Regions from separate parts of the Homo sapiens genome. Here region 2 is linked to region 1. Evidence: fine-mapped expression QTL. A gene starts in region 1. The other region holds a variant in brackets. All regions are shown on one strand. Distances are from middle to middle.

Region 1 (16,507 bases):
TGACCTTTCAATATAAAACTTGTTCTCTTTATAAAACTTTCTCATAGAACCTTGTTCTTTCTCTTCAGCACGCTTAACATCATTTGTAAAATTTGTAATTATATACATTTTTTCTCTCCACTGATCTGTGAGTTTCTCTAGGGAAGGAAAGGAGTATATGTCTTTTTTGCTTTTATATTCACACAACTCGATAAATTGCCTGCATGTACTAGGTGTTCCGTAAATACATGTGAAGTGATTGAAGAGTTAAGTATAGACTAGAAACGTTCTCATTGCTTTCTGATAAAGATGAAGCTCCCTTGGGGAAAAAGACATAGTTGATAGGAAACACCTTTGATGTTAAAAAATGTGCCAGACCAAAAGGTACAGCTGGTATATGAGTCACTAATGAAGATCTTGTGGTTATAGGTTTGAAAGTTAAGGTAATTAAGTGTTATTTTTTACTTTGGGATTTAAAAATGATAGTGGGCTATTTACAGCCTATGGAATAAAAGTGGAGCTCCCCTGCTCCCTTCTAAACACACCAACAGTTCCATTTTTGTTTTTTCTTCTCTGCCACATACTTTCCCTGAAAAAATAAAATAAAAATAAAAATAAAAAAAATTCAGGGTCTCACTGTCACCCAGGCTGGAGTGCAATGGTGCGATAACAGCTCACTGTAGCCTCAAATTCCTGAGCTCAAGTGCTCCTCCTGCCTCAGCCCCCCAAGTAGCTGGGACTACCAGGGTGTGCCACCACGCCTGGCTATTTTTATTTTTTAATTTTTTAAAATTTTTTGTAGAGATGCGGTTTCACCATGTTGCCCAGGCTGATCTCGAACTCCTGAGCTCAAGCGGTCCTCCTACCTCAGTCTCCCAAATTGTTGGGATTACAGGCATGAGGCACCATGCCTGGCCGAGTTCCACCTTTAATGATACACCCTGGGGAGTTGTGATTTTAGTGTGGTCTTACTTTCTCAAGCAAAACCCCCCAAAATTCTGAAAGGAGTTAGAAGAGCATGAAGACAGGCATGTTAATGACGCTCTTATTTCTTTTGAAATAGAAACTTGACATTTGCCAGCAGGGAGAAAGTTGTGGAGAAATTTAAAGGGTTCACTGGTGTTCTTGGCTTGAGAGCATGCTTTGGTTGCCGGCAGCAGGGGTAGAGTAGGAATTCCTTCCCATTCTTTAGCTAGAGACTTAAATTTCAGAAAACAGGGCAGTAAGCATGAAGATTTGGGTTGAACTTTTCAGTAGCGCTCTGGTGCTTTTTTCAAACGAAAGCAGAGATCTTAAAACTTTTCCTTATATGGGATTTCACAGCTTTATGAAAATGGGCATGCTTACTTAATTTCCAAGAATAGGTATAATTTTGTTTGAAGTCTTTAAAAGAATTACTACCAGTGAGAAAAAGACATTTTTATTATAACACTTGATACTTACATAAATGTACAGGACTTCAAGCTCTACGGCTTCTTAAATCCAAGAAGCTGGTAGTTTTCCCTCTTAACTTAGGGAGGGTAAGTTTTACCTCTTGGCCAAACATGATGGTTTGTGTCTGTAATCACAGCACTTCGGGAGGCTGAGGTGGAAGGATCACTTGAGCCCAGGAGTTCAAGAACAGCCTGGGCAACATAGTGAGACCTTGTCTCAACATAAAAAAAAAAAAAATAAATAAATTAGTTAAGCATGGTGGTGCATGCCTGTGGTCCAAGCTACTGGGGAGGCTGAGGCAGGAGGATCGTTTGAGCCCAGGAGGTTGAAGCTGCAGTGAGATGTGATTGTGCCACTGCACTCCAGCCTGGGCAACAGAGTGAGACCCTGACTCAAAAAAATTTTTTTTACCTCTTTCCTAGTTCTAGAAAAGTCTTTCCATAATGTTGGCTTCTGGGAATTCATATCAGATTTAACTTCAGGTAACACCAATCAAGCACCTGAACTATGACCAAAGAGGTTAAGGTTAATTAAGTATTTGAACTTTGTATTTAACCAGGCTTGGGGTGAATTGCTTAAACGTTCTAAGTCTTATTTTCCTTCTTTGTAAAACAGGGATTAAGAACAATATCTCCTCTTAGGGTTAAGTAGCTCCCCTACGGTGGAAGAGTGTTGGGGACACCCAAGGACTCTCCCTGCCATAAGTACACACACATGCATGTGAGTGTACACACACACTCATGGCCACTGACCATAAGGCAGGGGAATAGAGTCTCAGGGCAGGAAAACTAAGGACTTCCTAGAAGCAAATCAAACGGAAAAACCCCAACTTTCTACGACCAAGTAAATAACTCTGTAACTCTACTTCAGCTATGACAGGAAATAACCTCTTCATACGCATAGAGTGTACACCAAATAAATAACTTTGCAACTTCACTTCAGCCTCTTTATTTATGCAGGGTATACACCAAGTAACCAGTGGGAAACCTCTAGAGGGTATTTAAGCCCCAGAAAATTCTGTACCCAGGGCCCTTGAGCCACCTGCTTGAGGCTGTTCCCACCCTGTAGAGTTTCATTTTCAATAAATTTCTGCTTTTGTTGCTTCACTCTTTCCTTGCTTTGTTTGTGTGTTTTCTCCAGTTCTTTGTTCAAATGTTCGAAATGCCAAGAACCTGGACCCTCCACTGGTAACAACCAGACCTCAAGTCCAGGTCTTCCTTGTGGACAGGACAGAACCAAGGCCCAGCTCCCTCCTGACCCACAGCCACAGATGTGATTCTGGCAGTGAAGTCCCCTTAACCCCATGTTTTAACCACTGGAGTTAAATGACTGCCAAGTAGGTATGAGGCAGAAAAGGAAACAGGCTACATGATTAAAACATGAGAAACAACAAAACAACAACAGTTGATTTTCTGATGGGTCTGAAGCCTTTGCAGGGATTGTCCAGGTCTCTGAGATTATAAAGTGAGAATTTCTGAGGCTTTCAGATTTCATAGACCAAAACCATTACAAAAACATTTTGGGAGTGGGAATGGAAACTGAGGCTGTCAACTTTTTATTTTGCCAAAAAATGACCAAAACAAAAAACCCACATCCAAATGATTACAAATATAATAATCATTGATACAAGAATTGCATACATTTAGCTTTACATTGCTCTGATTACTCTCATTTTACCTCTGAGTTGTGAAAAACCTGTCTGTGGATTTGCAGCCATCGGCAGATAACTCTGGAACTTCTGCTACAGAGAATGCACAGCCAGGCATGAACAGGGGCCAAGGGAGTAGGTTTATGAACATACATTCCTGACCTCAGCTCCTGGCAGCTGCAGTCAGGCAGCAGTTTTGAGGGTTCCTACTTCTGCAAACATTCTGAGACATGCAGACCACCATTCTAGGCCTCCCCCTCTTACTTCATTACTTGCATAATTTATCCCTCAAGGACAGTACAGCATAGCACAACACATGGCTTATCTCTGATGCACAAGGTTGTGTTTCTTCATTTATCCTGCACACGAGTCTTTGTCCTCCCCACAGCATCACAAAGGGACCCAGCAGAGAGAATCTTCCACAGCCTACACTCATTATATTCTCTTTGTCTTTTCTCCTTCTTCCTACAAAGTTAATATCACATGGATTAAGTCAGAAGACTCACAAGGCTTATATTATTCATTCATTTGTTTGCTCATTTATTGATTGATTTAATACATATTTATTGAGTTCCTGTATGCACCAGGCTCCATGCTAGGTATTGAAGGTATAGTAGTGGGCAAGCAAACGCAGTCCCTTTTCTCGTGGAGGGAGAATTCGAGAGACACAAACACATGAGAATATGTAACTATAAAAATATGATGAGAACAGTGAAAAAAACAAGGAGTGTCATGAAAGCGTGCAACAGATGGGGTGGTTAAGAAAAGCTTCTCTGAGAAGACGACATTTAAGGCAAGGCCCGAGAGATTATGTAGTGGACATTCACTGGTTTTGTTATCCTTGATCAACTTTCCCTTCTTTGGTAACAATGCCCTGATGATTATGTTTGGAGGCTTTCATTCAAGGTGTCCTGTTCTTCTCTGGCTGAGGGTAGGCATGTGGCCAAGCTAACCAAGGCTGACGTTCTTCTAGGGTTTGGAATCTTGAGTGGAGTGATGCAAAAACAGAAAAACCAGAGTGGCTTGTTCCACTGGTTGAGCCTCAACAAGGTGTCTGTTAGGAATCAAATCTCCATAAGATTCCTGAGCTGTTTGGTCTTTGAGCTTTCCAAAACTTGGCTGAAGAGACTGAGAGCTACCTCTATGTGCACCAAATTTTTTTGTTTACATTATTTCCCAAATAATGTACCACAGAACTCTAATGGGTTCTGGAAAGCGGGATTTAGCAAAGTGAAGAGTTTGGGAAAGAGCACGTCAGTGGAAGGAACAGCATGTGGAAGGGGCTTTCTGTGAAGAAGAGAAGAGCTTGCTGGTTTGGGGAACAGAAAGAAAGCCAGTTGGGCAAAGTGTGCTGAGTGAGGGGCAGAACAGTACCAATATCTCTGTAGGGGCAAGCTGCACCAGACCTCATGGGGCCATGTATAATCGTTTAGATTTTATCACCAGCACATAGGAAAGTTACAGACATATTTTGAGCATGGGAAGAATATTTTAAATAGCAAAAATGTCACAAAGGAAAAACAGAAGAGTTCAACTAACAGCGTAAAGAACTGTGAATTGGTCATCCCAGTTCTGCTCTGAGCCAGCTCCAGGACCTTGGATATTTGTAAGGCTCTGATGATTTCTCTTAGCCCCAGTTTTCTCATCTGTAAAATGAGGTGGTGGGTTAGATGATCTCTAACTCCATCTCTGATGTTTCGTGATCTATGATAAAACCATGCCAATAAATGTAATTGTCATTAAGGAGCTTACAATCAAGTGGGAGAGATAAACACACCTAACCTCTATGATACCTGCTGTTGATGTTCCAGGGAGTTCTAACGTTTAAAGCTTTTGGTAGCTTACAAGCTGATTTTGCCAGCCCATTGTTATGTTGACTGCCAAAGGATTTTAAACAGTACTAGGCTCAGTAACCAATTCAATGAAGAACTTTCAAAGAGGGTATTTACATGAAGTGTGATGCTCTGCTAAGCTTAGATTTAGTGACTTCAACTGAATGCTTCATAACAGAAAACGCTAGCAAGAGTACTGATTCTTGGGTGAATTTCATCTAGAACTTGTAACTGCAGGAGTGCCTGTGAGTGATCTGTGTGTCAGTTATCTATTACTGTATAACAAACCACCCTAACACTTAGTGATTTGAAACAACCACCATTTTATTTCTCACAATTCCTGGGTTGGCTGGACTATTTTTGGCTGGCTTTCCCTGGAGCTCACTCATGTGGCTGAGAGCTGGTGGGCTGCATAGCTGGGACAGCAAGGCTTTCTCTTCTCAGGGTCTTTCCTCTTCAAGGAGTTGGACCAGGTTTCTTCATGGCAGTCTCAGGATAGCATTTCAAGAAAGCAAGGAGCAAGGCACAAGTGCACATCGAAAGCCCCTGCTTGTGTCATATTTGTTCATGTCCCAGTAGCTAAAGGAAGTCACAAGGCCAACTCCAGGGTCAACGTGGGAGGGAGCTACAGAAGGACAACTCAGTAGGGGTGATTCATTAGAAGCCATTAGTGTAAAATGTGTAAACTTTTCCTCTGAGACTTGCATTGCAAGATACACAACTCTAACCTATAAAGGATGACACTTTCTTTTTCTTTTCTCTCTCTCTCTCTTTTTTTTTTTTTTTTTTTTTGAGACAGAGTTTCACTCTTGTTGCCCAGGCTGGAGTGCAGTGGCATGATCTCAGCTCACTACAACCTCCGCCTTCTGGGTTCAGGTGATTCTCCTGCCTCAGGCCTCCCAAGTAGCTGGGATTATAGGTGCCTGCCACCACGCCCAGCTAGTTTTTGTATTTTCAGTAGAGACGGGGTTCATCGTGTTGGCCAGGTTGATCCCGAACTCCTGACCTCAGGTGATCCACCCACCTCGGCCTCCCAAAGTGCAGGGATTACAGGGGTAAGCCACCACGCCCAGCCAAGGATGGCACTTTCACAGACACAATATCTATGTTATTACTACTATAAGGGAGCATGTGGAGTCACCTTATTAAGGGACTGAGTCCTACATCAGTGGCTCTGCTTGCCTCATAAAATTATTCATTAATTTTTAGCAGTGGCCTTGGGAAGTTGTGTACATAATATTTAGAGGAAAATGGCATTTACAATGATAATGAATTAAAGCAATTCACACGGCAGTACCACTGCCCCAATTTAAACCTTGAGGCTTGCTAATTTCATATTTAGCTGCATCCCATATGCTCCCAATCCCTCTGCCCTAGTGTGGAGCTACAGCTCAAACTCCTTTGAAGGTAGGAAACTTACCTCACACACGCGTGTTCCCCTCATTCTTTCAGCGCATAGAACACTAAAAAGATGCTCCTTAAATACATGCTAAATAAACTGATCAATAGTTGCCTTTTATTAAATATCTTTGTGTTTCAGGTATTTCCTTATTTCCTTCACAGACCGGATCATGAATGATCTCCCAATGTGACAAGGTCTTATTCTCCACAGTTTACCGTTGAGGGGACTGAGGTGCAGAAAGCCCAAGGTGTATGCAGCCCAATCCCCTCTGATCCCACTCTACTGCATTGCTGCCTTTTGTACGCAGCAGGAAGGACACTTCCTGTAAAAATGAAAAAAAAAGCCTTAAGTTGTTTGAGAGAGGGTCAGGAAGAAAACAGGAAGAGCCAGTAGACTGCAGGTGCTTTCAAAGGGCTCCCTGTCTTTGACATCCCTAAAATAAAAACTTGTTAATTAAGAGATTGGCCACAGAAATCCAGGTGGAAAACCTGCAGAAGAGTGGGTTCCACAATTCTTCAAAACAGAACAAAAAAACCCCAAGACTTGTTATATTTTTACCGGTGGAGGGGAAGAGGTTACAGGAGTGGCCTTGCTCCCCGGGCTGGCCTTGCTGAGCAGGTGACAATACCACACATATAAAGGTTTTAAGGTGAAAAGGTAGTCAATATTTTACATTTCGAAGATAGTTTTTAAAATCACCTACTGCATCAGTAGTAATACAACAATAACTACCATTTACATACCACCGCACACATCGGGGCTGCGTAAAGAACTTTATAGTGCACCATCTCAATTAATTCTCACAACTCTGTGAAGTAGGTTTTATTATTCTTAATTTATAGACGTGTTCACTGTGGGCCAGGGAGATGAGCTTTCCCGCGATTGCCCAGCTTTTAAGAGGTAGATCTCAAACCTAAACGTGTTTGACCAAAAGCCCTGAATAACATTTAGCCGTGGGCCTCTTGCGGATTTGGCGCTGGTCCGAGGTGGGGAATTGTGAATCTCATTTATTTATGCTGAGCTGCGCACACATATGCACGTGTAAGTTACAAAAAACAAATCCAGGTCAGGATCTCTGTCCGCTTGAGGTTTCAAAGCCTACTTGGGTAGACAGCGGTAAAAGTCTCAACTCATTCATCTACTCGTTTGCTCTCTTCACAAGTATTTATTGCGCACTTCAGTATTCCAGACAGGGCGCTAACCTTGCCCTGGAGGAGAGAATGGTGAACACAACAGACATGGCGTTTGCCTCCAACTATCCCCTTTCCGATTCTGCTATCTCACGGGCGAGGCGTTCAAAGAAGCAGGAAATATATCAACAAGGGGGTGACTTAAGCACCCGCTGCGCGGGAGCCGGAGGAAGCGCGCTGAGCCTGCAGAGGTGGTCAGGGCGAACTTCCTGGAGGCAGCGGCAGCAGCAGGCCGGGCGAGAACCCAGGTCGCTCGGAAGCGACAGTCTGAGCCGGGAACGGGGAAGAGGGGGCGGGAGCCGAGGCCCGGGCGGGGGCAGCCAGCGAGTTAGGGTTAGGACGGGAGGATTCGGCTTCCCGGCGGCAGAGGGCGCCTGGCGCTGCGGTCTGGCGCGCCAGAGTCGCCCGCGCGGGCGCCGAGAGGAGAGGCGAGGCGGGGAGCGCAAGCGGCGGCGGCCACTGCCACGTATTCCCGGCAGTGGTGGCGGCGGCGGCGGCGGCGCCCGCGGGCAGGTGGGCTGGGAGCGGCGCGGCGGCGGCGGCGGCGGGGCGGGCGAGCCGGCGGGCGGGCGCGGGGCACGGGGCACCGGGCACCGGGCGGGGGTGCGGCGCCGGGACAGTACGGTTCCCGCCACGCCGGCTCCGCCTCCGCGCAGTGCTGCTGACCCAGGCCTGGGCGCCCGGCGGGTCCCGAGCGCAACTCGTGCGGGCGGGGTTGGGGGCCCGAGGGACTCGAGCTCGCCTGCCCGTCGCGGCTCGAGACGCTGCATCCCGGTTGCTGCGGGGCGGGGGCTGGGAAAAGTTGGGGCGGACCGCGAGCCCGCGGGGCCGGGCGGGAAGTGCGGGTGCGGGGCGGACTCAGGGGCCGGGGGACGCAGTGCAAAGGGCTTGGGCCGGGGCGGCCGGGAGGGCCCCGTATGGGAAGGTGGGAAACGCGGGTCCTTTGAGGACGCCGAGAAAGGGGTGCGCTCAGGGTCTCTGGGAGTGGACAAGAGTCCGGCGGCGGACCTTGCGGGTGAGAAGGGTCGGCGCCTGGGGGTCGGGGAGTAGAGGTGAGGCGGGGGCGGGATAGAGCCTTCCTCCTCCCCCGTTCTTTCGGGACCGACCCTGAGACCCGGGGCAGGCTCCGAGCTGGGTACGCCTCTGGCATCTGAAGACCCAGTGGGGAGTTCCTGTACGGGGTGGGTGGAGGAGGGAGCTGAGCGTTGCTTCCTCTGCTGCTGGGGCCGACTACCGCCCCTCCCCAGCGGCCAGATTCACCTCAGACTGCAGTGCTTTTGCCCTGAGGAAGTTGAGGAGGGACAGCTGAGCGGATGAGATGTTTGGGGTGTTCCAAGATGAGTGGGATTAGGCTGCATGATATCATAACTATCTCCGGGAGCTGTCAGAAAACACTCCCATGTCCTCATACACCCACCCATCCACTCATCCAGTCAGTACTGCCAAGCTCCAGGCTCCCTTGCTCTTTAAGTGACACCTCTAGATCCCCAGAGCCCAACAGCGCATCTGCTCACAGCCTCGAGGGTGGCAAGGGTGGAAGACATGGCCTGCTAGTGTCTGCGTAGGTTGGTGCTTTCAGAAACAAGTGGTTCTGGAGGTGCTGGATGCTTTATTAGAACAACCTGTGTGGAGCCCGTTGACAATGCAGATGACTCATGTTGGCTTTTTTTTTTTCCCCTTTACAAATAAACTTTGTATTCAAGACACCAGTATGCCTGGTCATTTGCAGCAGTGATACGGCAAGAGACCCATAGTGGGCTTCTTGAGCCCTTATTCTCGTCCTAGATGTGTTAGCAAGAAGTTTGACCTTGGATGAGTCACTTGCTCTCTCTGGACTTCTGTTTTCTTATCTGTCACATGGGGTATAAAGAGAGAGCTCGACAGTGTGATGTAGACAGGAGTAGGTTTCTGAGGGACACAGTGAAATCTTTTTTCTTGTAAGGCTGGATCAGCCACAGAAAATAAGCCTTAGCCTGTTCTTATAAAGAAATTAGCTTAGATTTAAAATAAAATATGAGAAGAAATATTGCAAAAAGCAAAACAACAAAAAACTAATAGTAGTTGGTACTCGATTTACAACATGAATACTGTTCTTATGCTTGCAGTTAGTGTACTTGGTTGTCCAGCTATCTACTATAAAGTTGCTCATTGTGCTTAGAAAGTGTGTATTTCACCTGTGGACCCGAATTTTTTCTTATTGTTTAATCTTCAAGCTTGGAGTGGACGCTCAAGCTTGGAGTTGGATTGGTCCTGCTGGGGTTTGTCTGAAGAACATCCTCAGGGTCTCTCATTGCATAATATTATAGGTTTCCTTCTGTCTGACTGATGCTGGGGTCCTTGTACAACTATGCTTCTGCCATCTTTTCCATTCTGGCTTGAGAAGTGGTGAGCTGGTTCCTCTTGCCTCTGGCATGCCCAGACTTCTCATTTCTTTTCAGATGAGTGTAGTAAAAGGCAAGCAGTGAGTTAGAGGCAGCACATTAAAAATTGCTCCAGGCAATCATCTGTGTCCCCTCCACCCCGCTCCTGTCCCCTAGACCCCCTGGGCAACTTCTCACTAGAGCTTCCTGGTCATAAGCTGGCCTTGACATTTTGGGTGCTGAGGGCCATCACAGCATTGAAGTGACTTGGCCAGGGTCACACCACACATTAATGATCAAGCCATGGTGCTGGAAGAAGAGGAATTTTTTTTGTGTGTGTATTTTGTCATAACTGAATGTTCCTGTTCTTGTCCATTAGTAGCTTTCAAAATCCATATTGGGTTTGACCACATCATTTTCAGTAATCCTTTTTTGTCAGCTTTTTGGAAGCTGCAGTTAGTGGTTCTCTCTGAGTTTGAGGTAGTGGTATTTTATTATTAAACAATTTTTTCCAAATATTTTTTAAACTACTTTCCTTTTCAGACCAGATGAGGTAGTGTTAAAAATGATATCTTCTCCAACAAGTAAAGGCTTGATTAATTAGGTTGAGTCTTTAAAATATCTAGTGTTTGTGTGTGTATAAATTTTACTTTAATTGAGAAGTATTGATAAAAATCATAATCGTCACCATTTGAGCCCCTGCCATTGAGCAGGCATTGTGAGGTAGGAGTGAGCATCATTTTACAGGAGAGAAAACAAAGCCAAGAGATGGCACGACTCTGGTACAGCTGTCGTGCATAAGTTACTGATGATCTTTCAATCCATGTACCATTTTGTTAACAGTGGAAAAGGAATTCTCAGCTATCCTACAGGGTTGTGCTAGTTAAATGAGATACTGTATGTGAAGAGCAACAAGTAAACTCTTAACGGGCTCCCTAACCCAGCACATTTTAACATAAACACTTGTAGACTCTGGAAGCAGTGTGGTGAAGTGGTTAAGTTCAAGCGTCTTGGGAGTCTGGCAGGCCTGGGTGTAAATACTGAACCTGCTGCCTGACCTCTCTGAGCCTGGTTTCCACATGTGTAAAATCAGGATAATACTGTCTGTCTTATATTCAAGAAATGTACCCACTAATTGCAGTGGGTGCTGAGTAAAGATTGGCATCCACTCCTTTCCCTTGCACACAGGTACTTGGGTCAATGGGATTGAGTAAGTCTTTCAGCAGTTGTCCTCAGGGGGAAAAGGCTTAAAGTACTTTTTGTACTTATCAATGATTCTTCTAGCCTTTTTGCCTTCCCACCCTAAGCCCCAGCACGCGCAATGAATATTCCAGGGCCTGTGATTGTCTTGTCCAAGGGAATTGAAAAAATCGTAAGCCAGAAAGGACAGGTCTTTGATAGAAAGTTGAAAATGGATGTAGCTGGTTTCCCTTTGCCCATTTTGTGGCCTTCCTCCTTTTTTTTTTTTTTAAATTAATTTTGTTGGACAGGGAAAAGATACAGAATTCAGGGGGTTCTAGCTGGAAGGGGGCCCTGGAAGAGCCTATAGTATAGGGCAGCTAGAGAGAGGAGTGGGCTGGCTGACGGTCAAAGCTAGTTTGGTGTGGGGGAAATTTCTGTTAGATGCAGGATTTGGCTTAATATGGGACCAATTTCCATCTAGTCCTTTAAGGCCCTCTTTTGGGACTCTGAAGTTTTTGTGCTCCAGGCAGATTTTGACTGGTTGTGGTGGCATCACAAATGAGTTTCCATAGTAAATTGTATGCTGAAAGGAAATTAAATTCCAAGAGGGTGTTTGTTGTGACTGATGCCAGAATTTCCTCTGAGAATTTTATTAACATTCAGTCTGTGAAAGTACTTCTTAGTTCTCTGAAGATAATAATTAGGAAATAGTTTTTAAAAAGTAGAAGTGTCGTCTTTGTGAGCTTTTGAAATGTCATCTTCCTAAATCTTTGGAGCAAATGAGGCTCAAAACATCATAGAGACTTATATTTTAAAAGCATTTCTTCCTAAATGTACTGTTTTCCTTCTCTTCCTGTTCCTTCCGTCCTCCTACATTATTTTGATAATGAGTTAATTTTGGTTTCTTTCACATTGTGGTGGCCTAATTTTTAAATTTATGACCCTTCATTTTTAGATCTTGCATGTATTTTTTTTTTTTTACCCTTGAGTCAATTCTCATTGATTATGAAGAGCTGGTATAGCAAGATGGGAAAGAGAGAGGACCCTGGAGCTAGGTTGGTGAGATCTAGGCTCTTTAGAACTTGGATTCGGTCCTCACAGTAGCTCTGGGAGGCTGATCATGCTATTCCCAACACACAGATGTGGAAATGGGTGCAGAAACACATGTGTGTTCACATAGCCAGCAAGTGGTTTATCTAAGTGTCACTGCAATGATCTGTAGGACTCCAAAGCCCATGCTTCCAGCTGGAAAGGCAGGCAGGGGCCTTGCATGCTGTGCCAGGGTTGGGACTTAGTCCTGTAGGCAGAGAGGGTCAGGCCTGTATTCTAGAAAGGTAGCTCGGTGGCTGTCTGGAGTTTTGAAGTGAAGCAAGTAGAAATTAGGTGTAGAGAAACTAGTTCATTAAAGTAATGTCTTGAGAGATGAGGGCCTGAACAGAAGACATTAAGACAGTGGCAGTGGTTGCGGAGAAGAGGGGGCTTGTTGGAATCCATAGAGCTTAGTGCCTTTGGATACTAGAATTGCATCATCCCTTCCCATTTCAGGTCTGATGCCCCAGGGATGGGTGTTGGAGATGCTGACTATGTGCAGGCTAAAAGCAATCTCTGCAGAAACCAAAAGTGCCTCCTTTGGTCTCTGCTAACAGCTAGAGAAAGGTGGCTGAGCACAGTCCGAAAGGGCCTTCCCTTCCCTGTGCCACCCCAGCCTTATCATTCCTAACTTTCCAGGAGCATCGCAGAGAATGAAGTTGGATTCCTCAGACTGCATTTTGGGAAATGCTAGTCAAGGTTAGAAGTGTGGAAGGGAAGACGCCTTCCTGGGGTATTGTCTGCACACCCCTCTTCCCTGGTGGCACAGGGGACCCACCAGGGTTTGGTCCTCAGTTTTGGCTATTCCATAAGAGTTGATCTGCCCTAGATGGGGTTAACTTGTGGTCACCAAACTTGCAGGGGTTGACTGGGAAGCAGGAGTGGCAGTGAACATAATGGCCAGCCCCAAGAGGAGTCGAGGCCAGCCTCCTCTGACGGGTGCAGTCTCTGCGGGGCGCCAAGCCATGCTCAGGGAAGCGGGCATCAGAGCCCAAGGAGATGATTGGCTGGGGTCTGCATGTCCTGTCATCGGTAGGACGCACTGTTGCCATGTCAGGAATATACTGGTTTTGTGCCCTTTCCCCTAGTCAGTGCCAGACGTGGTCATAAACTTGCTTTTGGGCTTCCGTTTTTCCAAATTGTGCAACATCCCTGCCCTTCTGAGAGTTTGTGCTGGCTCTGGTCAGGCCGGAGGTCAGGTGGTCAGATTCTGGCTTTATTTGGGCTGTGTTCTCGCTGCGAGGAGGAAGCCAGGTTACCTCTGTTGGACCTGCCTGCTCCCAGCATCTCCAGCAACAAGCTGTCTCTGCCGGTGAGTCACTCCGTGCAAGAGTCTGCTCACCCACTTTCTGCTTGATGTTTACACTTTTCCCTCAAAGAGGGAACCTCTTCTTGTTCTGAGGGCACTTCTCGGCAGTCCCCTAGAGTGTCCAGTTGTTTCTTTTGTGGGGTAAGAACCCGTGCCAGACAGGTACATGTTTTAATGGGAGAAGAGCATTTCTGCCTGTGGATATGAGCTGTCATGCCTACCTCTTGAACATTATGTCCTGAGCAAAGCCCTTTTCTCGTTCTTTTTGCTTCGTGTTTAGGTGCGTGTTTGGGTGTGTTTGCTTTAATTATTACTGGGAAGCAAAAAAGATATTTATCAAAGGTTTAAATCTATAGCAGTGCCCCTGCAAGCAGAAAGAAGAAGTATATATTTAGCCAGGATATCATTGATTTATCACCCTTTTTTCCATTTTGTTCCTGTTTTGTTGGCAGGACCATCTGATTTGTATACTGGTTCAGTTTGGATTTCAGTAGTGAGTGTGAAAAGATTCCTGGGCTGTTTGCCGAAGTGGAGGGACTCAAATGCGTGGGCTTCAGGGCTGCCAGTCTTGGCTGTCCCTGCAATCCCAGGAGCCTGGCACATGGTGCCTTTGTCAGGAAGGTGGAGTTTGGCCAGGCCGTTTCTTTGGCTTTGCCTGGGAGCAGCTCTGCTGGTGACAGTGGAGGCCTCCCTCTGCCGTGGGAAAGGGAATTCTCTCTTGATTCCGGTTTTGGCTTATTTCTCATCCTATAGGGATGAGAGGGAGGAAGGCCCCAGAACTAGTGAGTTTTGGTGATGAGCAGGTTCAGGGTAGGACTGGTTTGCAGCTTCCACAGAGCTTTTACAGATGTTTTCCTTGCATCCCACATTTTCCTTCTTCCTTGTTAGTCCCAATTCAGTCTGTCATCAGTACTGCAGAAATTGGCTTGAACTTTGTCAGTCTTGGGAAGACCTGGAAGTGCAGCATAGAAACCTGTTCAAATTGGTGCAGCAATTTCACATCAGCATAAGTAGCTTGTTTTGGTGGTGGTGGTTTTTTAATCAGTTTAGGTGCTTTTTTTCTGAAATCATATAGGTAATATGTAAATGTATTCTCCTGCAGCCTGCCCTTGCATTTAAATAGTGCAGAAGGACACAGCAGACTTGTCACATTCCCCTTCACCCAGCACCCCTCCCCAGGTGCCAGCTCCTCCAGGTCCTCAGAGATAACTGGTGTTAGCAGTTGGATCCGTGTCCTGAAACTGTCAAGCCTGTATACACAAATACACTATGGTTTTCCTTCTTTTAGAAGCATGAATCTGATTGCATCATACTGCTTTTTTCACATAGTATATTTTCGAGAGCTTTTCATGCATGTAGCTCTTCTCTGTTCTTTTAATTTGTCTTTTATTTGCCTACAAAATATTTTCCAGTGTAGTTATGTCATAATTTATGAATTGGTCCCCTACTGGTAGACATATAAACTAACTCATTAGTTTTGCTATTATATCTTCATTCATACATATTAGTATGCACATGTTTCTCTAGGAGTAGAATTGGCATGTCAAATGTTAAATTCATTTAAAATGTTGCAGCAGTACCCATACTATGCTCTCAAGAGATGTGCTAGTTCCTGTTGTCAGTGGTAATGGGCTGCCATTCCCCTGGGTGAAAGAAATGGATCATTGTTCAGTAGGCATTTCATTTATTATTGGTGAGGTTGCAAACCTCATCATTTGGCTTCTTTTTTTTTTCTTGATAAACAGACATGTTTAATGATAGCTTGCTCTTCACAGAGATGTCTACGGAGACTTTTTATCTATAATCCAGGAGTATATAACCATGCAGCACAGACCAATTAGCCAAATGCAAAATAAACTAGATTCTTACCACAACTATCCTATAAACACTGCAACTATTCTTTCCAAAAAGACCCTAATCTTATGTGAAAACACCTACTGTGGGGGAACCAGAAACCTAGCTATGTGGCCAAAAGGAAAAAATAGCAATTCAGTGGTTAATTGGTGAAAGCAGGAAATGTATGTCCTTTACTGTGCTGCTGTTGCTGCTGCTGCTGCTGCTTTGGTCTTCTTAGTTTTGTTCTTTTTGTCTCTCTTCTTCAGCCCATCCATGTTAGCTCTCAGGAGGTTTGAATAAGCCATCTGAAACTTATTCACTTCCTCGGAGCTCACCACTGTGCTGATCTTCTTTTTCCCATCGGTAGCTCTTAACAGACACTTGTTGTCTGCAGGCTCAAAGCCCTCCACAGTACCTTTCTTTGGAATGGATTTGGTTCGACTGTCATACTTCTTCAAGGTGATATGATGCTGCCTGATGTCCAGCACTTCTGGAAAAGTCTGGTCAGCTCCGTCAGGAGCTGCTCGCTCTCCAACAACACCATCGCGGCGACTCTGGCTCGACTCCCTCTGCTTAAGCCCCTAGCAGTGAGAACTGGTTATTTGGCTTCTTGATTCTTATTGCTGAGATCGTAGATGTTAAGAGTGGTGGGTCCATAGCAACTATAGAAGATGAGGGAACCAAACCCTCAAGGACCATGGCTCAGCTCAGGGTGGTGTAAGCGTCATGCCACCAGTGGTGGCATTGTGGTACCTGGAAGCAAGAGCTCCTGATTTCACATTCTCTGTTTCTCCCGGATGCTAGTTATGGTAATAGGACATTTTAATTTTGGTGTAACTTGCCAGAGTATTTCTCCAAACCTTTCATCTGAGGAATCAAGGGTCCGTAAGTATTAAGATCAGTCTGTCCTGTGCTGCTGAGGCGTGGATTGGAGACTGGGGAGGGGCACTGGGAAGACACTTAAAGATTGCGTGCTGGAAAATCAGGCACTGTTGCTTCTGGAAAAGCCTCCAGGAATGTGGTAAAGCAGATGTTTTCTTCTAGTTGCATGTGATTATTCCCCCTCTCCTGGCTTGCTATGGGAATATTGTGGTGCTTTGACCCTTAGCAGGATGCTCTGGGGAGAAGCGATGACTTCTTAGAAGGTGTTTGAGGGGTGTGACACAATGGGCTGGCAGAGAAGGCGTCTGGTGGCTTCCATGAATGGGCTGATCTCGGGGCCCTCCCTGCAGGCTGGGCTGTCCAG
Region 2 (16,507 bases), 45 kb after region 1:
TATTTATATATCTACACATGTATAGGTGTGTATGTGTGTATAAATGCACACGTGTGTATATTCAGCATTTCTGGTTATAATCGTGTGCAATGATTTCATCCAGTGGGCTGTAGACTATGGGCCAGGTTTCATATTTATCTTGGTGGGCAGGAGCACCAAGTACCATGTCTGGCACAGCTAATCACTTGCTAAATGTTAGCTATTTTCATCATCATCATCATCATCATCATCATCATCATCATCATTGCAAGGGCTTAATACATTTTTCTTTTTTAACAAACGAAGAGTTTAGGTTAGTATTTCCCATGGTTTCCTTAGAACATTGGTTCTCTGTGATATCAGTAAGTGTTGATGAATGGGCATCTGTGGTCAGCTAGATTTGGGAATGCTCAAATACATTTTTGATTGAAGGATTTTCAAGATCCTTTGTTGTATAAGGTATATATTGTGAATCTTTAAGGGGAATGGGAGGCTATAGAATGTAGCATTTCCAAAGCTGAATAACTTGTGAAACTTCTTTTTTTGGCATAAGTCGTAAAATTAGGTTTCTTGGAATTTTCTTTGGGAAATAATCACATAGTCTGGCCTTTTCATTTTTACAGATGAGGAAACTGATGACCTATATTCATTCTTGCAATAATTTATACCTCAAATATGTAATGAGTACTTCTTAAAGTTAGACACTGCTAGGTTGGGTAATACAATAGCAAGTGAAAAAAAACAGAGTTGGGGAAAGTGTTAATTATACTTTTTATATGGAGTAGATGATTAAGTGGGAGGTACAGACATTAATGAAGTAGTTACTGAAATTAGAACTGTTATGTGAATGGTGTGTAGGAAAGTAGACAGTGCTAAATCATTTGTTTTTTGTTTTACTCATTTTCAAAGCTCTGCCAGGCCCATTTAGGTCTTCCTCTCAACGTTCTGCCACTGCTAGCAGCTCTGTGATCCAGACTGCTGAAGATCAGTAAAGATGTCCATTTGCCCAGCTGCATCATCTGAGAGTGTAGCATGTTGAAGACATGATCTGTTACAGCGTGAGACAACTTTCTCTTAGTGCCTCATGTTTAATAAGTACTTGTACATATTGATAGACTGCATGAAGTATGCATAAACATACTTAGAAAAACCTGGACTGAAAGACAAACCCTACACTGTGGTTTCTTCACCCACTGCCCTAACTCACTGTGCTGTACAGGGGGACTGAATAAAATCATTTCACATGCATTTCCTGCACCCCCTTGCTCTGACCTGGCCCCATTTTGGATGGATCCAGTGACTCTTCCCTTCCCCACCATGCAAAACAGAAAAACACATCTTTCTGTTTTGATCCAGTACTGCCCACACGTTGGGGAAAATGTTAATATACTATTTGTATGAATATATTTAATCAAAGGGCATGATGTTGATACAGTAAAATTGGCCTGTGGTCTGGTGGCTTCCTGGGCAGATGATAGCAGGAGGGTTTTGCGACAGAATAGCCTTGGAGTCAGGACTTTTGTAAGAAGATTAGGTCAGTGTTTGATTTGATGTTTCATTCTGCAAAGTCACCTACAGAGAAATCAAACATTTACATGTTTATTAACTGGTGCTTTTGGTTTTGGCATGTGGCCACAGGCTTTGGGCTGGATGAGCTCTGGGAATGCACAAAAATCTCTCATTCCTTCTCTTGTATGGGTAGATAAGCAGGAAAATATTTACCTTTTCAGGTTATCCTCTTCAAAGAAGCCTGAAACTTCTTCAGCCACATCATCTTCCTGCCAGAGTCTGAAAACCAACAGGCTTTCAAGAGACCAAGGGTTGAGTGGAGTCATTTAGGGAATGACATGTATCCAGGTTGCTAAATTTTTTGGTGTTGCTCTGAGATTGAATTAGGGAAATTCCCATTGAGTTTTTGGACCTCTTGATTTCTAATCTTCTTTGATTAAGTTGGAGTTGCAGAAATATCATGGATTCCTACTTTTAAAATAACTTTTTCTTTGTAAAAATAATTCAGACTAATTGTAGAAATTTGGGTAAATAGCAGAAGGCATAATGCTGAAAATTACCCATAATCCTTCTTCAGAGATAATCACTATAAACATTTTGTTTTATTTGCATGTATTTTTATATGCATAATTAAGATCATTGTGTATAAATTTTGATTTCTTCTTATTCCATTTAACATATGAATACTTTTTCTTGTGTTGAGAGCAACATGGACTTGTATTAGTTTCCTGTTGCTGCTGTAATACATTTCCACAAACAGAGTGGCTTAAAATAGCAAATATATTCTCATAGTTTTGGAAGCCAGAAGTCTGAAATCAAGGTATGGGCAGGACCGTGCTCCATGTGCACAGACTCTAGGGGAGAATCTGTTCCACTCCTTGCTCTCCCAGCCTTTGGTGCTGCCAGCATTCCTTGGCACGTGGTCTTGTCATTCGTATATCTGCCTCAGTTTTCACAGTGTGTGTCTGTGTGTTTGTGTGTGTGTAATCTACCTTTCTTATAAGGGCATGTGAATTTAGGTCCAATCCAGATAATCAAGAATACAGCTTTATCTCACAATTCTTGACTTAATCATGTCTACAAAGACCATTTTCCACCTAAGATAACATTTCCAGGTTTCAGGATTGGGACCTGATATGGTTTGGTTGTGTCCCCACCCAAATCTCACCTTGAATTGTAGCTCCCATAATTCCCACGTGTTGTGGGAGGGAACTGTTGGGAGATAATTGAATCATGGGGGCAGTTTTCCCCATACTGTTCTTGTGGTAATGAATAAGTCTCACAAGATCTGATAGTTTTATAAGGGAAGCCCCTGTCACTTGGTTCTCATTATCTCTTGTCTGCCACCGTGTAAGACATGCCTTTTGCCTTTCACCATGGTTGGGGGGGCCTCACAATGGAACTGTGAGTCCATTAAACCTCTTTTTCTTTATAAATTACCCAGTCTCAGGTATGTCTTTATCAGCAGCGTGAAAATGGACTGATACAGGACCTGACCTCTCTGGGGCCATTATTCAGCCTTCTACAGGGTTCTAGACAATGGACTCTGGAGCCAGACTCTGTGGGATCTAATCTTGAGCAAGTGCCTTAACTCTCAGTACCTCTTCTTTCTGATCTGTAAAATGGGAATAATAGTACCTACCTCCTTGAGTTGGTATACAAATTACAAAGATTAACATATACAGAACACCTAAAAAGCTCAGGTTAGTGGCTGGCCTGTGTAAGGAGTAGCTGTTAGTATTGTATTTGTGATTTTTATTAACAATTCTTTGTTAGATGTCATTTTTAATGGCTGCATAAGAGTTTTTAAATGAATCTACCATAATTTGTCTAATTCTGTCCTTTTGTTGGATAAGTTTCTTTTTCATTTTTTATCTCAGGTATGATGTTGCCGTGTAGCATTAAGTTTTGTTCCTTAGTGTAGAGTTCTGGAAATGGAATTACAAAGTCAAAGGGTGTGTATAGTTTTAAGCCACTTAATGAGAATTTGTTTAATTGCTTTCCAGAAAGTTGAATGATGAGAGTACCTGTTTTACCATGGCCATACCTGTTATCGCATGTTACCATTTTCAATACTCTGAGGTCCTTTGATATAGTCTGCCCTTTAAGCCTGAAATGTACAGCATAGGGACCCTACATTTTGTGTTTCATTCAGTGAGGAGTATTCTGACCATGCAAGAAAACCTCTAACACAAAATGAAATCCTTGCTTTGTGAAGTCACCCCAGTGCCTTCTCCATTCTGTTATGAAGCCTGGAAACTTGCTGGGTGTTTTTGAGGGTAGGGGGAGGGCTGTTGGGGGAAAGGTTGTTAGTAGCAGGGTAATGCTAGGTTTACAGGGACTTCAATAGCATAGTTTTGCTTCTGTTCTCAAATGTGAACATTTAAAACTGAGCATTTGATGGGATGAGGGAGGTACATTTGAACAGAAAACAGATTAATGTAATCACTTTACAACTAAGGCCATGTGAGGGACAGGAGTATGGGGTGGGGAAGGGGTAGCTCCTGCATTGCCTGCCAGATTATCTGGGAGATCAGCCGTGGGAAAGGCTAAGGGAACAGTTTGCATCTGTACTTTGCCCCCTGGGTCACCTGCTAGCCTGCTCTCCTTTCTTGGTGGTGCCCATTGCAGTCTGGTCCTGTGCAGCCCAGGCCTCTGGGCTATAGAGAGGCATAGCAGGGGTTCCAAGTGTGTGTGCTCAAGGGAACCTGCTACATTTGACGTCATCTGGCCCATTGCTGTTCAGGCTATTTAGAAACAGGGTGGCTGTGTTTCCCCAGTGGAAAGGTACAGTATACACCATGTGCAGCAGGTCATGCACAAATTCAACAATACCCAAACCCGCCGTAGTTGGCTAAATGGTGGCCCCAAAGATGTGCTTAGATTAGAACATCCCTGGAACCTATAAATGTTACCTTAATTGGAAAAAGGGGGTTTGCAGATGTGACTAAGTAAGGATCTTGAGATGAGATCATCCTGGATTATTTGGTAGGCCCTAAGTGCCATCACAGATATTCTTATAAGAGAGAAGCAGAGAGAGATTTGACACAGAAGAGAAGGCAGTGTGCCAAGAGGAGAGGGCATATGTCAAGATGGAGGCAGAGGTCGGAATGATGTGGCCACAAGCCAGGGAATGCCAAGCCACCAGAAGCTGGAAGCGGCGACAAACGAGTTCTCCCCTACGGCTTCTAGAGGGAGCATGGCATTGCCTGTTTATTTCAGACTTCTGACCTTCAGAATTAATACATTTCCTGTTTTAAGCCTTCCAGTGATAATTATGGCAGCCTCAGGAAACTCATATACTAGTCTGTGCCCTGTCCAAGACACTTCTGCTGTTTATGTGCTTGGCTCTCTCTTTCTCATATTGCTAGAAAAGCTTCTGAGCACTTACTCCCAATTTCTGTACTTATCTGGTCATGACCCAGCAGCAGAGTTGGCACTGGTTTGCAGAACTCCTGTTGAGTACCACTGATCTAGTCTCTATCATTTTATGAATGAAGAAACTGAGGCCTAGTGAGAGAAAGTGCTATAGGTCTGGGACGAGCAGCAGGTGCCTCTGCTACTTGGAATATTTAGACAGGGCCAGATCTGGGGAGAGCAGATAGCAGAGTTGCCCTTCGGAGGCCAGCTGGTGTCCCTGTCGCTGTTCTGTACCCTGTTCAGTGAAAGCTGATGCTCCAGTGAGCCCCTGGGGCGACAAGCTGCTCAGAAGGCCTAGAAACTAGGGCAAACTGGTAGAGCCTTTGCTGCAGCTACTGAGCCAACAGCAGCAGGCAAAGAACCCTGTCAAGGGTAGAGGTCACGGCTTGCTGATGACTTAATTTCCAGCTGACTGCTTCAGTCTTTATAGACCCTCTAACTCAGGTCATATTTTTCCTCTGGAGCCCAATTTTAACTTTCCATATTTTCAGAATGGCAATTATCTCTTAGAGAATGGGGACTAGACTACATGCTGCTTTGATAAAGTCCAAACTCCTTTACTTGGCATTCATGACTCCTGAATAACCAACTCCCTTCCCCTTTCCAGTTCTGCGTCCCATCCCTCCCTTTTACATACCTTAATCTCTGGACTTCACCAAAATCAGTGCTCCCTAGTAGAAGAGGCTATAAGACATTAGGTTCTTAAATCCCCACAGTAGGTAAGTTTGTGATTGCCCAACTCAGGAACTAATGGAAAAATATGGCGAGGATAGAGGTCGGGCATACATCTGTGAAGCTCTTTGGGAATAAAAAAACAACAACTGTTTACATTTACTGCAAGAGAATATGAAGGCAGCACAGCAGCCAGTACCAACCACTAACATGAACAAAGTCATCTGAGACCATCTGGCCCAGTGGAGCAACCAGATGCCTATAGCCACATACATAAGCCAGGCAAGACCAGAAGAAAAAGCCCAGCTGAACTCAGCACTGATTGCTGACCCACCATACCTTGAAATGAAATGTTTGTTTGAAACAAAACAAAAAGCACGGTAAACCAAGATTTATCTTTACGTATTTTAGTAATGATAGGCATTGTACCATTACTCAATTATGTCTTGCTTGTTATGGACACTTTTTGGAGTCTCCCACCTTTTTACTTTCAAGGGAACTCTTATTTATTTTGCTTTATGGGTAATACCCATACTAAAAGCTCCTTTCCCCCAGTATCTGGGCTTCCAACTTAATATTTAATGCCACTGAGGTTTTGAGTTAATTTGTTGGCTGTCCTCTGTGGCTGTCACACATCTCTCTTCCTTTCCTCTCTGATGTTATGGGACGGTAGTTCGGATGCCTGGGTCACTTTCTCATCTTTTATTTTTCCCAAGGCTTTGGTTTAAAAGCCTCTGTTCCTTCACCTTCCGCGTTTGTTTCTTTTCTAATCCCAAACCTGTATCCTTCATTTTTAAATCAGTGATTTTTGATTGCAGGGAACAGCCATGGTCTCATGGCGGCTTAAGTTAGCAGCGAGTTTGTTGTAGAAATCCCAGGAATACAGGAAGCAAAGCTTGACTGCCTGCTGGGCACAGGAGTGGGAAGGCCCCTCTAACTCCATGCAGGGGCTGCTTGGTCCTGTCCATCACGCACATGCACACATGTGCCAGTGTATCTGTCTGTCTGCCCTTCTGGAGCAGGGCGGTGACAAGTGTCTATCCCTAAGCCAGTTGGGAGAGGGGAACCGTGTGACTGCCCTCTCAGCATGGGCTGAGGGGGTTCCAAAAAAGGAGTCTGTGGAGGGATACCTCCCCAGCAGCTATTATACCCTTTCTTCTAATTTCTCAACAGGAATAACTCAAGTCACCTGTACTGGAAATCAGTTTGCTGAAATTAATCAA[C/T]GATTCTTGAAGTTGAAGAAAAGGTAAACATTCTCTTATAAGGGAAACTCATTGTCTGGGGAGAGGTTACTGTCCCAGTCATTTCTCTCATATGCCTAGTTTTGTGTGTAATATTTTACCCCTTCTCTCTGCCTGGCCAAGTTCCTCTTCATCCCTCAAGATCTTTATCAAATGCCACCTTTGTCCTTTGTGGAGGATCTCCTCCAGGCTGCGGGTGATTTCTCCTGCTGTTGAACCCCCACGACACTTTCTCCTTCCTGTGATGTTTGTGTTCTCGTTTGCCCTTCCCCTGATGGTCTCACCCTTCCTCTCTTGGCCAGTCGGGTAGAGGTCTGTGACACACCCCCCATCATAGTACTTACTTCCACGCTTTATTCTCGTTGCCTGTTTTTGTGTTTTCCCCAGTAAGCTGCTTAAGGGTGCATCTGAGTTGTGCCTGGGACACAGTCGGTATTCCATAAATGTTTCTCGAATGACTCATGAAGGAGCCTCTCCACAAGAGGCCTGCTCCTGTGTGGACCCACATTGTACCCCCACCACGCCTCCCTTACTGGGCCTGTACTAGGAATCATTCTTAAATACATTATGATCTTTGAGCATTCATCCGAAATTCCTGATCTTCGCCAGGTGTCCTTTGGCTATTGGTGAAATGAAGCTAATAGCAAAGCTTTTGTATCTGATACTTTTTTTTCACATTTGATTTTGGACCCATGTTAAGAGCAGGAATCCAGAAGTGGGGAGGGAGGTGACAGGCAGAGCTGGATGCCAGTGGTCACTGGAGCACAGCTCCCCAGCCCCCTTCTCCGCTTGTGGCGGGTGTGAGTGGGGGTTGCATGTGGGGGGCTTTAGGTCTCGCTGTGGTTGTAGCCCCTCCTATCTGCTGCACAGGTGGATCACCTTCTCCATCTGTGCCATGCTCTCGACTGCTTCACTCAGTGACTTTGTGTCTTAACCCACCTCCCTGCCCCCAACCTTTGTCCTTTAAATGAATAAGTCAGCAGGTTCCTTTTCTCAAACTGTTTACTGTAACTGCTAAAGATCCCATAAAAGTTTCTTATTAATTTTATGAGTTTATGCATCATAGCCAGAGGGACAAAGCATAGATTGTGGGTGTTCCCAGAGATACAAATTTCCAGAGATTGTTTTGCGTATTCATCTGCACATTGTTGTCTGGGTTTGACGTGTATTGGGCTTCAGTGTGAGGCTTTTAATATGTATATCCTGTTATCAATTAAGAAATTATCCAAGTGGTTGAATCCTGTGAGACTTCGCAAGTGTGTGCAAATCTAGTATACTTGACTTTTCAACCTCTTCTTTCAATGTAACTTTTATACAAAATAAATAATCAACTGACAGTTCTCAAAAAAAAGAAAATCAGTTTAATTGGTCACCATCATCTTGGAAGACTTGACTCAGCCCTTTCTGCCTAACAGTAACCAGCAACTGTCTCTCACATTTGTAGAGTGCTTTCTCTTTTGCAAGGTGCTTTGACACACGTCGGCAGATTTTCTTCTCCCACCAGTCCTGGGAAGCAGGCAGAGGCAAGTGGTAACTTCTCATTTTCAAAGTTGGGAAATAAGCTCAGAAGTTCAATGTCTTGCATAACATCATGAACTGATGTGAATGGGGTTCAGTTCCCCCCAACCATCTGATCTTGGTACCCCCCTTTGGAAGCCATGGCAAACTAACAGTGTCACAGAACCGTCTCTACCCTCAGTGTTCCTTTGAGGGAGGGGAGTCTTGACCTTCTGTTGAGAGTCTGACCCTGGTGCTCCCTCCACCCTCAGCCAGGCAGCTTTCTTGAAAAAGCAGATATGTTCCTCCTGAGACCTTCCAGTCAGTCTTGAAAGTTTTGTTTTTGTTAAGGCTAATTTAAATACAAGAAATTTAATTAGCTTACATGAATGCTGCATTGTCTTACTCTGAGTAAACTGGAAGACACTAACAGGTTTGATCAGCTTAATTCAGCTGTATCTGATGATGTTCTTTCGCTTCCTTCTCTTTTAAATCATTGCAAATGGTTTCTATCAGTCAAGGCAGCAGAGCACAGTGCTTTATTGCCATGTGGAATTGTTTAGTTAACTGTGATTTTTAAAAAATTGCTCAACTTTTAATGAAAGTGGATTGTCAGGTGACATTTTGATTTGTCCTTTGATGGGGAAATGGGAAAATAGAACCATCATAATAAAAAACCAGCTTCTATTCTAGAAGGGGGGCTATTAAAAGCAGGATGTGATTTCAGTGAATTGTTGTTTTCCTAAAACAGGCCACCATCTCTGGTCTTTTTATGTTGAGAGACCTTCCTCTGATACTCTCTTAGATTAACATTTTCCTGTGGGAAATTCTAACCTGGAATCCCCCAAACAGGTTACTCCCCATAGTGTAAGCGTTGGGGCCCAGGACCAGATACCAACACCCTTTTACTGGGAATCTGAAGCATCAGTATCGAGAAATCTGCAAGCCTATCGTGATGCTTGTAATCAAAGGAAACAGGCTTCACATTTTACTTTTAGTTGTGGCATGATGCAAGCACCATTTTACTGTTAAGGTTATTGTTTTCTTAACCCCAAAGCTGGATCTGCATTAGTGAGGATCCTCATAGAGGCTACCCTCATGTGTCCTGGCTGAGTGGGGTTCCAGGTGCTCCTCAGTGGTTGTGCCCACCTTGAATTGGCACAGTGGCAGGACCTCCGACACCATGAGAGGATAGACAGGGGTCACCTCTGAGGCTGGCCCCAGGACTCCTCTGTGTTCTATAGCATTCTTACACCCTTTATGGCAGTTAGCAAACTTGGTATCTCATGGGCACCTCAAGCTTACTGTGTCCAGATTTTAACTCTTGGTCTACTTCTACCATAGTCCCTTTCTAGGCCTCCTCCCTTCCCCCATCTTATTAAGGTACGTAGTTGTTAACTCACTTTGTCAGGCCAGAAACTGGTACTTCATTTGTTAATACTCATCTTTTTCTTCCCCCAAATCACCAAATCCTAATGATGCCTCTCCTAAAGTACATCTTGAATTCATCCATGGCCTTCCTGTATCCGCCCCCCAAGTCCAAGCCAACATCGTCCTTTGCCAGGTGACTGCCAAAGCCTCTTAACTGACTGCCCTGCCTGCTTCCCCTTTTCTTCTATTCCTCTCATCAATTTGGACCCAGAGCAATCTTTAAAAATTCTTGTCAAATCATGTAATTCCCTTGCTTGAAACCTGTTGGTGACCTCATCCTGCACTTGATGAAACACATAAGCCCAGTGCAGCCCATGGAGTGGACTGCACTGTCTGGGCCCCAGGCCTGGCTACAGAGGCACAGCATTGTTGGCACCATGTTGTTGTAGCTTGTGAGACATTCTCCCCTTCACTCTTGACTTCCTAGGAAGATTGCAGTGACTTCAATTTTCCAAACGCAATAAAATAACTCAGGCTCTCAAAGGTGTACTTAGAATGAATATTGTGTTCTGGGAAATGGAACAAGGAGTGATTTGTTCCTCCAAACACCAGAATAACAACTCCTAGAACACAGAGGTGGACCACTATTTCATTTGTAACCTTAATAAGTTAATAGCCAATAAGTAATCAGCTGAAATTGCAATACTCCTTGCTACTCCCCAAGCAACCTCCCCATCCCCCACCCACATATTTTGACATAAAAATGTGCAACAGCATTTTAGCTCATGAAATCTTGAATGAAACTTGGTTCTAGGTTGGTACAAGAAAAGACTGGCATTCTATTATACAAGGGAAAAAGAAAGCTAAATATTAGCATACAGCTTTCCTTTTTAAATATGTTTTTCCTATCTTGAAGCCGATTTGTTTTCCTTAGTCTTGAGCTTTACTCCTGTGTGTGTCGGAGGTCCTGCGTGTGCTGCCGTGCACACATCTGAAAAGCACGTACCTGAATTTCATCTTAGGCATGATACTCTCCATTCTCAGGCCTTCCCCAAGGTAATTAATGGTAATATTGAAACTCCAGCTGGATGTTTGGTACACTGTGGCCTGATGAGTTACAGCAAAGTTTGTAATGGGAATACCAGCAAAGGTGATTTTAATAGTGTGATGAGCGTTGTGATAGAGTTTATTACCCAGAGTCCTGGGAACACAGAGATGGCCCCTCACTCACCCTGGGGGATGGAAAGTCATGTGACCCTTGAGATGGGTCTTGAAAGAGATGCCAAGTACCAACTGCTTGTTACTTTTTTGCCAAGCAGAAGGAATGCTTGGGAGAATAGGGGTGCAAAGGGCATTTCAGACAGCTGCATGGATAAAGGCCTGGGAGGTCAGCAAGGGTGTGGCATGCCAGAGAACACTGAGGAGGGTCGCTGCTGTGGTGGAGGGCACGGTGGGGTGGGAGTTGAGTGCAAAAGGTAGGCAGGAGCCAGATCATGCAGGTCCTTCCTTGGGGACCAGGTTAGGCAAGGGATTTGGATTTTATTCTAAAGGCAGTGGAATGCCACTGTAGAATTAAATACTAGGGAGTTACTGGACCGGGTTTGTCTTTTACAATAGGGATTCTGTAGGCATGGTCTGTACTAAGACTTCTCCTGAAAGTCAGTGATCTGATTCAGATATGCAAGTCCTTTTATTAGTTCTAATGGGTGTGAGACTTAAAATTCCAGAGACTTGCACATTTTAGGTATGACGGTAGGCTGGATGTTGCTAAGTGACTGACATGTGATTGGTGTTAAGTTAGTGCCCTGCTGGAGTTTCTGGATGATTGTACTCCCCTGGGTTGCCATGCTCAGCAGTGGTGCATTCCAGGTGCCTGCTGAGCATGGACACAGGCGGTTGGATTCCTGCGGGTTTGGAAATGGCACTCTGACAGTGCAACGTCAGTGAGGTCTTGAATTTGTGACAGCAACTTAAAGTTGCTGGGAATCTAGAGGTCTAATTATACTGTTAACTTGGCTTTCTTGTTATTTGGTTAACATTTTTTGGTTGGTGGTTAACCCTGCACTCTGAAGTGATGCATATTTATGCTAGGAATGTGTTTTGGCTTCAAAGTTTATGATAACTAGACTTTAAAACAGGTATGAAATTTAGATGCATCGTCTATATCCCTTTGCAAAAGATGTCTCTGTCTCCCACATTTGCTTCTCTGGTGATTCTTCAGTGTTACTACCATATTATTTTTTCCTGCTAAGGGGAAAATATGTGAGATGAGCAAGGGTGGCATCCCTTGCCTTGCCTCCATGGACAGTGGTTTCGAAAGGACTCAGGAGTGTTTGCATTACTTAAGGCTTGACAAAGCAGTAAGGTGAAGGCAGAGAAACAGTGGAGGAGGCTATCACAATTTCCTCATCAATAAAGATGAGGGCTGTGGGGAAGGAGAGAGGGGTATGTCTGAGAGATGTTTAGGATAAGGGAGAACAATCTGATGTAGAGAATGACAGAGAGGGGTGGTATCTAGGAGATCCCCAGACTTCTGGCTTGGGCAGCATTGGCGAGAGGGACAGTCTTGTATCATCTAGCAAGTAAGTAAAGCAGGCCAAGATGAGGAGGCTTGGAAGTGGGCAAGAGTTTGGCTTGTTCTCCCACTATGTGCAGACAGAACAGCCGTGCATGATGCGATGTCAGAGGTCAGGGTTGGGCTCAGCACAGAGATGTTGAAAGCCAGGTCCTATCTGTACCCTGTTTTGTTGACAGTGGGGAACACATGAACACATTCTAGTTAGAGGACTAAGATCAGACATGGGTTTCTGTGAAATCATTCCCTGGAAATTGAGGAATCAGGAGGCTGGAGGAAGGGAGGCATCTGGGTGGAGATGCTGAGGACTCGGTAATGGCAGGGAGAACATACAGGCATGGGTATGCGTGCAGTGTCTGCAGCCTCTATTTTATTTGGGGGTGGCGTGTGATACAGATTCTAGAGTCAACACAGAGGAGAATGAGCAGCCCTTGGTAAGCTATTAACCAGGAGCAGGTGGGGGCAGCGTGGGGAAGGTGGAGTAGAAGGTGACTGGGAGAGCTCTCCTCTGTTCTGGTGCCCAGGCTTGCCTTAGTTAACAGTGGACCCACGGTGGCCTGAGTGGACCTAAGACTGGAGCTGGTCTGACTCTTGCTGACCTGGAGGCTTCTGTGCAGTCTGCAGTTGGACCAGTGGCAAGATCAATAAACCTTGTCTTCAGTGCTCAAAAGCCTTCTTGTTCTGTGCCATTGCCGAAACCATTCTCATTGACTGGTAAATCAGCTTAAGGTTCAGCAAAAAGGAGGACATTTAAATTAAAGATCAAATATTTATCACTTTGTTAATGACAAATGCAACTTCAGCAGCTCAAGTTCATTTTCTGATGGGGTCATTCCCTTTCTCCTACCCTAAAATAGACTCTTAGGAGACCTTGGAGAACATTGACACACCGCTATGTAAATATTTGATAGCAGCTTAGCTTACTGCCTTTCTTTTGCAAAATATATGAATTTTGTCAGGAATCAAAGGTCTGCAGTGAAGCACACATGGTAAGCATTGAGAGTGCACAGTGTGTTTGCAGAATCCCTTTTGGACCGGCCGTCTCAGCTCCTTGGCTAGTCCCCTTGCTCATCGTTCATCAACTCGTTCTGCTCTGGTCGCCCTGGCCCCTTGCTACCCCTTAAAACCTTCAGGCTGCTCCTGCCTTGTGGCCTTTGCCCTCCATGCCCTTCCCTGGCACCCTCTTCTTTGAGGTCTCCTTGGGGCTTGCTCCAGCCTTTCCTGCAGGCCTCTGCTCTCCAGTCACAGAGGCAGTCCCTTGTAATGCTCTCTGGGTTAAATCACGTCTCCCACCTGGTCACCTTACACTCTTTTGTCTTTCTTCATAGCACTTTGTTCCTTGACATATTACACTTTTATTTGTTTATTTTTTATCTCCCTCAATTGGACTGTGAATTCCATGAGACCAGGAACTTTGTTTTCATTATTCTGTCCTGTCACCAGGACATTACCCAGCACATCGAGTCTGCCTTGTATTTGGTGAATCAATGAATGATCAGATGGACCAGTCAATCAGTTTGTATATTCACAACAGTTAATCAGCTTGTGGCACGTGGTAGGTGCTCAGGAAGTGTTTGAAAGAATGAATTGGTGAGTGAGTAAATGAATCTGTGCATGGTTAGTTGCCAACACTGGTGCTCAGCAACTGTTAGCTGGATAAATGAACGGTTGCTGGAGCTTACTCGCCTGTCTCTGGGGCTAGTCCCTAGCTTCTTTATTGGGGGAAGGCCCGGATGCACAATCTTTGATGTGTGCTATTGTTTCTGTTTGATAAATTCAGTTAGTCCCTCATTCTTTCCGTTTGTCTGCCATCAGCCAGGCTCTGTAATTAACTTACTGTAATTTAGCTGAGAGGTGAATTTTCCATTTTAAAGATGTTATAAACAACTGGTGCTTGTGCATCTTGGTTGTTGATGAAGTTCATGCCTAAAAGAACATGAGGGCTGTGTTACGTGTCTAGGGGAGAAGGGGCTGTTAGCCCACACCTGGCCATAAAAACATGGGGACAGGCTGGCAAGTTCTGGCGAAGTTGTGTTTCTCTAGCTCCAGTGCACCAGCATGCCAGCATGGGGGCCAAGGATCAGGGTCAGTGTGGTCATCTTCCTCAAGGGTCACATTTAACCCAAAGATTTGGGAGAAATAACATTTTAAAATTTTACAACCAATACTGATATTTGTTAAAGGAGAATTCAATATCACTTAGTAGTTAAGAGCAGGCTGTGGAACCAGACTGCCTAGGTTTGACTGTGTCTCACCACTTACTTGCCTAGTGGTCCTGAGCAAGTTACATAATCTCAAAACTCATTTCTCACTTCTAAGGTGGGAGCCTGTGATGCAGTAGAGCCAACAGCACGGGGATGTCAGGGATCAGTGAGAGCCACGGAAGGCTTTATCACAGTGTGTGCACATTGTAAGTAAACAACAAGGCAGATGTTTCATGTGATCACTTGATGTTTTAAGATAACAGAGGAGCCAAAGGAAATTTTATTCTTACCCTGGCCATGCCCTAACATGGCCTCCAGGGATAGGCATTCACTTACTTCTGCATATTTCAGATGGGCAAGTTAGGAGAAGCACTGCCTTAACAAAACCCAGTGCACACCATTGGATGGCTTGCATGCTTTCTCAGGAATTCTTCCCCAGCCTTGCCTTGGAGTTGAGCTGCCGTTAAGGAAGTGATGAATTAGCCATGCTTACTTTTAGTACCTGCTGTTTTAAAGTACCTATTTGAATAGCAAATGAAGTCGAGGGAACCTACAGGTTTGGATAAAGAACTGCCATCTAAGGAATGACGGTATATAGAGGAGCTTGTAATTTGAGCATTTTCACACACATTGCTTGCATTTCATTCTTATAACCACTTATTCATCAAGGTAGCGAAGACTGTCAGAATGGAAAGAGACTTCAGTAACTCTTGGGTCCATCTGTTTGATATGATTTCTGAAGTCCCTTCTTCAGCATCCTATTCGTCTTTCAGACCCTGCTTGGTTTCTCCGGGAGATAGAGCGTTCCCTGCCCCAAAGGCAGTTCAGTCTGGCTCCCCATAATTTCTACGCATTGGTTTAGGTTCTGTCTTTTAGAGCCGCAGCTAAATCTAGCACTTCTTCAACCTGTAATTTATGCCCTTTTAATATACAGACCTCTGGAGGTAGTGTTTCCACAACCTCACCTGGGCCATTTAACCATTGCGATTTAACCATTAAATATATGAAGTCTGCGAGAGGCAGCCTTGACTGGTAGGTCGGCTTAGTCTGGTGGACTTCAGCTACAGGTCTCAACTCATTGACTGATTGTGAAATCTCTTTTGTGGATCTCAACCAGCATTTTTTTAATGAAATGAAATATCAGAGTATATAAACACATATTTTCTAAAACTCTGATTTCAGTTTGTGTTGCATGTGCTGCCGTTATATTCTTTCTGCACATCATAAGCATTTCAAAAGCCATTGTTTTGGACCCTCTTACAGGAATTTCAAGTTACTTCACGTTTATTTAGTTATCATCTTTGTCCTTTTAATGGTTGAATTTGCTTCAGGTCAACTAGTTAAAGACATAGTAGCTGTGTTTCAGGTTGCTGATGGCTATTAATTTAACTCTGATTGCTCTGTAAAGAAGAGCATTTCCTGGCTGGCCAGGGTTAAATAACAAGACCTGTTCAAAAGCTCTGCTTCCTCCTTTTTCCTTACTCCACCTTCAGTGAGAGAAGCTGGTTGTGAGCACCTAGAGGATTTCGTGCAATCTTAGGGCCTGTCCTTAAAAGGCAGCCTTTCCTCAAGGCAGGAGGAACCTCCTTTGCTGCTGGCTCTGGGAAGGAGCTTTTGAGGACGAGCCTGCACTTACCCGGGCTGCTTTGGTCTCTAGACTGCCCTGAGCCTGGAAGTATTCTCACAAACAAGAGAGTCACCTTATCACAACTTGGTGTGAGGGATGTGACAATACCTCCAACTGGAAAGGGAGGGATGTGGCTTAGTTGAAAGAACAGAGTTGAGAGTCTAGCATTGTTTTCTGATCTTGAACTCTGCATTGGGGATGGAGGGGGAGAGGTGTGGGGGGACAGGTGAGGGACAGCTGTGGAGAGAGGGGGCTCCTTGGACACATGACTTAAGCTCTTTGAACAACGGTCAGATTTCAGGTTCAGGGCCTATGCCAGGGACTTTTCTTTTGTAATCTCATGTCATCCTCACATTGTCTTTCTCTTACTTTGTCGTACTGGCCTGATGAAACCCCATCCCTGGTTAAATTG

The links.
Region 2: its variant is fine-mapped to the expression of SMCO4 in whole blood (TOPMed, PIP 0.95).

The regions. Positions count from the first base shown.
Region 1 is chr11:93,534,767-93,551,273 of GRCh38, reverse strand. It overlaps SMCO4 (single-pass membrane protein with coiled-coil domains 4), which reads left to right and starts at 7,883. Exons shown (of 3, transcript NM_020179.3): 1 at 7,883-7,998. It also overlaps the pseudogene SRP14P2. RefSeq lists silencers at 7,683-7,812, 7,973-8,022, 8,153-8,392 and enhancers at 13,064-13,610, 15,204-15,273.
Region 2 is chr11:93,489,595-93,506,101 of GRCh38, reverse strand. It overlaps SMCO4 (single-pass membrane protein with coiled-coil domains 4), which reads left to right. Exons shown (of 3, transcript NM_020179.3): 2 at 6,754-6,826. Among named protein-coding and RNA genes, the nearest start is that of SMCO4, 46 kb to the left of the region's middle. The variant C/T (reference allele first, on the strand shown) is at 6,804.